Homo sapiens: one gene and its partner. The protein of the gene in region 2 purifies or fractionates together with the protein of the main gene of each other region. This does not show direct contact. Each region holds a gene or a part of one and is shown on either strand. Other genes may lie near its edges.

Region 1 (3,500 bases), on a different chromosome or scaffold from region 2:
TCGTCATACTTCCACCTCCAAGGCAGCACGCACTGGAGCAAACCACGCTCTTGCACAATAACATGGTTTATTCAGTTCTCTGCTGTCTGGGAGTATTAGTGTTCTGTCCACAACAGTAGGACATGCTGATAAACCACAGTCACGGACTGAAACCTTTCATAATAGGTGTTTATGCATGAGGTTAACTTTTCTTCCTATTGAGTAACTTAACAAGGTTGGGCTGCTTTTTACCGTGATGTAAGCAGTAAATTATTTCAGAGCCATGTTTGATCTCTAGCTTTGTTTCCTAGTTCCGCAGCTCTCTGTACTTGCTCATGGAGACCCTCAATGCGACGACGCCCCACTACGTTCGATGCATCAAGCCAAATGATGAGAAGTTACCCTTTGAGTAAGTGTTCTTATGCAACACACAGCGAAGACGTGGGAAGGCAGTTTCTGCCATAAAGTTGGAGAATTTGCTTCCAATTGTCTTGAGATTACCCTGTTTCTGGGTTTTTTTTTAATGATTCAGAACAATGCTGCCCTTTACATAAAATGTTAGCTCAGCCCCTCTGGTTAAACCCCCTCATCTCCAGGGCTAAGCAAAAGGGCTAGATTTGAAAGAATCTTCTACAACTAAAGTTTTTGCAACTTGAACCTTTTACTTGATTAAAAGAAGAATGAGTATGTGTGTTTGTAGAAGGTCATAGAAGGTCAGAACATTTGTCCTCAGACATGATGGCATGAGGCATTATTCTTGTTCTCTGGGACCCATGGAGGAGACCCAAAGCTTGTGAATATAAGGTGTAACAAGTCCCTTGTAGCTTGCTAGAGCTGAAAGAGGTGCCTAAAGGGGGATGAGCTGTCTATGGAGGTGGTGAGTGTGTGTATGGGTCACCAGATGGGTGAGACCTAAGCTGCAGAGCTACCTGTTGGGTGTTCTGTAGAGGAAATTCAAGCATCAGTGGGTGCTTGGGCCAGGCGAGCTAGCATATTTCTTTCCACCTGGTTGTCGTTTGAAGCTCACCTCAAAGGCCAGTTCCCCCATGGCCTTCTCAATGCCACCTCCATCAGAGTCAGCTGCTCCTTTCTCTATATCCCACTGCATCTTTATGGACTGTTTTGCAGAGGTGCTATTTTTCTTGGTCATGCAATAGAAACTTATTAAGTATCTGCTGGGTACCTGGCATAGGGTCACAGTCTAGCCAGGTCTGCTGTGCCTGTTTATGGGCATGTTGAGCAATTACGATGCCTCAACACATAATATCATTGTCTTTTTAAAGATTTGACTCCAAAAGAATTGTTCAGCAGCTGCGAGCCTGCGGCGTTTTAGAAACGATTCGCATTAGTGCACAGAGCTACCCTTCCAGGTATGTTGTCCGTCCTTGTCTTGGAGGGAAAAGTACCTGACATCAGAGCTATGCTGAGAACCAAGGACATGGCTGCCATGATTTTTGTCACATACTTTTGGCTTCTGTAAAGTGCCCCCAAGATTTTCCCACTGCCCTGTGGAAGTCCAGAAGAGGTTGAGAAATAGGCTTTGTAGGGGTCGGAGGTCAACACCACCTTCTCACCCCATCACTGCATCTCGGCTGCTGGTGGTGGCCCCACCGCCTCCCCCGTGTACTAGGGAAGACGCTGAGTGGGAGAAAGAGCACAATTGCTGGGGCAGACAGGAGTGCTCAGGGTGGTCTTGGTAGTGTCCCAGGCAGGCAGGGTATCAAAGATCAGTGCCTTTATCCTCAGGACAGATTGCACCACCCCCGCCCTATGACAACAGTGGCAGGTAAGGCAGCGGAGTCCCCAGACACAATGTGCTTCCTCTGACACTCCTGGCTTTGATCCCCTTTGATTTTCCAGGTGGACATACATCGAGTTCTACAGTCGCTACGGCATTCTCATGACCAAGCAAGAGCTTTCCTTCAGCGATAAAAAGGAGGTGTGCAAGGTGGTTTTACACAGACTCATCCAGGTCAGTTTCCCCACCTCCTGGGATCATGGTCTCCTTCCTGGAAGCACATCTCCCAAACATGCTGTTTCATCTTTGTCTTGAATGCTCAGGACTGTAATCATGAACACCTGAAAGGAAAGAAAATGTGCCCTGAGCATTTGTCTGCTGAAGAGACCATAGCAGAGTGCTCAGTGGGCCATGAGTCCCCGTTAGGGACCCACATCCGAACTCCGGCCTCCCCAGTGTCCTCGTATCCTGTTTAGCTCTCCCACGATCTAACCCAGTCCTCTGTGGACCAGGCTTATAGGATATGGTCAACTGGGGTTGTCACCAAGCCACATGGGCTCCAGGCATGGTGCCTTGTGTGGATTGACATCATTGCTGCAGCGATGAGTTGTGATGGGAAAGAGATGGGGAGTTATAAGGTCCAGCAAAGGGGATGGTGAAGAGAACCCAAAATGGAGACAGAAAACCAAACTTCCCCAGTTTCTTCTACTCCAATGTGGAGACCACGAGAGAGTGGCTGAAGTTCTCTGGCAGCCCAACTGAGAATCGCCGCAAATGACACTCACTCCCCTTCTCACCCACAAATGGATTCCTCAGCCTAAGTCCCATTTCTTCCTCCAGGGTAATTTTAAACAAACAACTCAAAGTATACATTTCTAGATCATGATGTGAGTTTTCTGCCTTAAATGTCAAAATCACAATATTTCTGGCACCTTTGAATCCCTAAAGCTCTTTTCCAAATACTGTATTATAGAAAATCTGACAGATTTTAATTCTAACTATATCATTTTTCTCTTCCAGGATTCTAATCAGTACCAGTTTGGTAAAACCAAAATTTTCTTCAGAGCAGGACAAGTGGCTTATTTAGAGAAACTTCGATTGGATAAACTGAGGCAGAGTTGTGTTATGGTACAAAAGCACATGCGTGGCTGGCTCCAGAGGAAAAAATTCCTCCGAGAGAGACGAGCCGCCCTGATAATCCAGCAGTACTTCCGGGGTCAGCAAACTGTGAGGTATGTTGGAATCAAGGAACACATGTGGAACTGTGGGGCTTTCTGTGCTGATCATCTCCGGCGGGGAGGACTCATCAAGGACAAGGGACCTTTCTCCTGTGACCCAGGGTGCAGACGTGCATGGGTCCCCTTTGTGGTCGTGAGCATTAGGGCAAGAAAGGTCCGTCTCTCAGGGGCAGGTAGTGCTGGCTCTGCCTGGTGTCTGTGTGGTGAGCCGACACCCAGGGCCCTGCAGGGAGGAAGCGCTGGTGAGAGTGTTACTAAGGAGAGTCAGGGTTCCGGAAGCTCAGGGAGAGGCCCGGGGCCCCTTTCCTATGGGAACTGAAAATGCATAAGATCAGCAAGGCCCTAGTGAAGATCCAAAGGACAGATGTCAAGAATAGCCAGCGACCAGCCTGCCAGCAACAGGTGGGGTGCACCATGGCAGAGGGGGTCCCTGCAAGGCCTGGCAGCAAACCAATCACAGAACCCCTAAGCAGGAAGACCACAGCAGCCCCAGCCAAGCCAAGGGCTGAGGGGAGGGTGGTCCACCAGCTGCGCTGATCCTACCT
Region 2 (3,429 bases):
TTGTCGTGAAAACTAAATGAAATGAGAGCATGTGTAGCCATAGTGCTGGCACTGGGTCACCTCTTTGTAAATATTAGCATTATCATTAGCAGAGGTGGCAGGGGAGGGTTATGAGTTCTTTTCAGATAGGCTAAGTTGGGGTATCTGTAAGATCACCCAATCACAGACATCTGTCAGGCACTTGGCAATGAGGATTTGGAGCCCAAGAGAGAGATCAGAGCTGGTGATAAAGATTTGGGTGTCACTCGCAGATAGATGATTACCTAGGAGTAGATAAATCATCCAGGAAGAGGGTGAAGAAATAGCTGAGGCAAGGTCCTTGAGGAACCCTTGGGGAGGAGGCCAAGTAGAAAACCCAGAGAAGCTTTTGGAAGAGGCTAAATGCAAAGACATTCTGCAGGGCCCACCCTGGAGGGCTGAGGCATGGGAGAAGGCAGGCCGCTGACTCTCAGCTTCAGCCTCACCCATTCCCCTGCCCCAGGTCTGTGACAGCCTTGGGCGGCGACACATGTCTACCTGTGCCCTCTGTGACTTCTGCTCCTTGAAGCTGGAGCAGTGCCACTCAGAGGCCAGCCTGCAGCGGCAACAATGCGACACCTCCCACAAGACTCCCTTTGTCAGCCCCTTGCTTGCCTCCCAGAGCCTGTCCATCGGCAACCAGGTATCTAGCCCGGCAGCCCGCAGTGGGAAAGGCAGAACTGGGTGGCAGGGGTGGGGTGGTGGTGGCCAGCAGGTGGGGAGGGGCACGCACCTCTCCCCTATCTCCTGTGCCACAGGTAGGGTCCCCAGAATCAGGCCGCTTTTACGGGCTGGATTTGTACGGTGGGCTCCACATGGACTTCTGGTGTGCCCGGCTTGCCACGAAAGGCTGTGAAGATGTCCGAGTCTCTGGGTGGCTCCAGACTGAGTTCCTTAGCTTCCAGGATGGGGATTTCCCTACCAAGGTTAGAACCTTTCCCCAAAGCTCAGCCCCATCCCTACCCTCACCCCATTCCTTCCAGTTACTTGCTGTGAGTAGCGCTAGTTTGTGGAAGGGGGCTTGGGCCCCTGGCTTCTGAGAACCCGTCCTCACTGAATCTCCTGCCTCTCTCCAAGAGACCATTGCACCCCACCCCACCCTCCACCAATAGAGCAGGCAAAGGAGTGGGGACCCAGAGGGCTGAGAAAACAGGAGCTAGAGGTTCTGGTCCCAACTCTGCCAGTTACTTGCTGGGTGGCTGTGATCAAGTCACTTCCTACTCAATCAAAGAGTCATCTCTACAAGAAATGACTGAGTGACACGTGCACCACTGCCCAACCCTGTGATCCAGGACTTCCCGGCCTTAGCCTGACGGGCTTCCCAGCTCTTCCAGTGCCTTCCCTGCTCAATTAAATCAACTTGGCTCCCCGTTCCCCTGAGTTACCTCCCCTGTGGAATGACCTGTTGTTTTAGATCCAGGCCTCTCCTCCTGTAGTTAGCAGGGAAAACCAAGGCAAGGAAAAGTAAGGGCAGCTGAAGCAAGGGCTGGTAGCTGAGCTGGGGGGCCCATGTCCAGCTCTTGTCCCTGGGCCCCTTGATCTGGAATGGGGAGGCGAGGTCCAAAGAAGGCAGTGACTCACTTCCCCCTTCCCTTATCTACCATTACCAGAAAAATCCTTGACATCAGGCCACTAATCGGGTCCCTGTCCCATGTTCTGGACCCTTATCTACCCCGTCCTGCCCCATTCCCGCTTCCTCAGCCACTTTCCCAGTAAGCTGACTGGCAGCCTCATACTCTCCCAGGCTCCTGGCTTCTTCCCAGCAACCTGTGACAGAGCGGCAGGGGAAAGGCAGAGGGAAAGCGGAGTGAGGGGCCGCCTGTGTGTGGAAGACCTGGGTCTTGGGCCACACCCTGCCCCTGGCTCTGCCCTAGCAGATATTCCCTGGAGTGCTGCTGCCTGGTGAGGCTTCTGATACCCTCTTCCCTCTCTCTGGCTCTTGGCTTAGATTTGTGACACAGACTATATCCAGTACCCAAACTACTGTTCCTTCAAAAGCCAGCAGTGTCTGATGAGAAACCGCAATCGGAAGGTGAGCACCCCTGCCCTGCCCCTCCTTCTCCCAGCACCCCCTCAATCAGTCACCATAACTGGTCTATTCTGAGGCCCCCTCTGCGAGCAGCTAGGATGTGGAAAGCGGTTCCTGCTTGCATCTCTGGGGCAGAGGCCTCCACCAGCAGGCTCTCCTCCATTCCTCCAGTCCTGGCGGAAGCAAGGCCCTCCTAGGCAGCTGGTGGATAACAGAGGAGGGTCCTAAGAGCACCACAGGAAGAACCCTTGGCTGGGCCAGGACTTGGACGTTGAGGTCTCGGTCTGTCTCCTCTTCTTACTCACCAAGTAGCCTGGGATGAGGCACTTCCCCCTCTGAGCCTCAGCCGCCTGTTTCTGCATGAAAGGGGTTGGGCTGCTTGATGTCTCCTCTGGCTTTAAAAACCCACATTTGAGTTTCCTCCTTCCCTCTACTGCCCTGTGCCCATGCCTGCCCACCTCTCGTTCTTTTGGGCTTCTGACACCTCCCCTCCTCCCCACTCCTGGCACCTGGCTCTGTGATACAGACCGTCTGCACTGAATCTCTGTGTAGGTGTCCCGCATGAGATGTCTGCAGAATGAGACTTACAGTGCGCTGAGCCCTGGCAAAAGTGAGGACGTTGTGCTTCGATGGAGCCAGGAGTTCAGCACCTTGACTCTAGGCCAGTTCGGATGAGCTGGCGTCTATTCTGCCCACACCCCAGCCCAACCTGCCCACGTTCTCTATTGTTTTGAGACCCCATTGCTTTCAGGCTGCCCCTTCTGGGTCTGTTACTCGGCCCCTACTCACATTTCCTTGGGTTGGAGCAACAGTCCCAGAGAGGGCCACGGTGGGAGCTGCGCCCTCCTTAAAAGATGACTTTACATAAAATGTTGATCTTCAGCCTGTGTGGCCTGTTCTGGTTATGATCCCCATCCTCAGCACTGCTACCCTGCCCCGTGGCAGTCAGTCCCCAACCCCTGGTTTTATGGATCCACCTGCCGGTGAGAGAATCTCATGGGAATGGTGCTCAGGGAAGCAGCCATCTGCCAGGAGAAGCAGAAGACCTGAGAACCCAGGGAGGTGAACTGAGGAAGGCCAAGAAGGCTGGGGCCCTAGGGATGATGTGGGCATGTGGGCACCTGTCTTCATTTCTGAAGCCCTAAGCCCCGTGATGTCAGATGCGAGTGTAGTATTGTTCCTCTGTAGGATAAAGGCCAAAGCCTGATGAGATCTTTTCCAAAGGGACCAATCCTGGGGTATAGGGAGTGTGCACCTTGCACTTAATCAGGAAGGGAAAAACCAGGAACTATAGCCTAGATCAGGAAACCTTGGGGTTGTTTTTGTTGTTGTTGTTTTGTGTTTGAGACAGGGTCTCGCTCTGTCACCCAGGCTGGAGTGCA

What was found. The genes of interacting proteins can lie anywhere in the genome.
Region 1: the proteins of ACRBP (region 2) and MYO5C purify together in Homo sapiens (affinity purification with mass spectrometry; one large-scale study listed by BioGRID and IntAct). This does not show direct contact.

Annotation. Positions count from the first base shown.
Region 1 is NC_000015.10:52,243,805-52,247,304, reverse strand, and holds part of MYO5C (unconventional myosin-Vc), read left to right. Parts: intron 1-290; coding exon 291-388; intron 389-1,262; coding exon 1,263-1,349; intron 1,350-1,839; coding exon 1,840-1,951; intron 1,952-2,737; coding exon 2,738-2,949; intron 2,950-3,500. UniProt on the Homo sapiens protein: May be involved in transferrin trafficking. Likely to power actin-based membrane trafficking in many physiologically crucial tissues.
Region 2 is NC_000012.12:6,637,575-6,641,003, reverse strand, and holds the end of ACRBP (acrosin-binding protein precursor), read left to right. Parts: intron 1-481; coding exon 482-661; intron 662-776; coding exon 777-944; intron 945-1,966; coding exon 1,967-2,050; intron 2,051-2,599; coding exon 2,600-2,722; 3' UTR 2,723-2,929; downstream 2,930-3,429.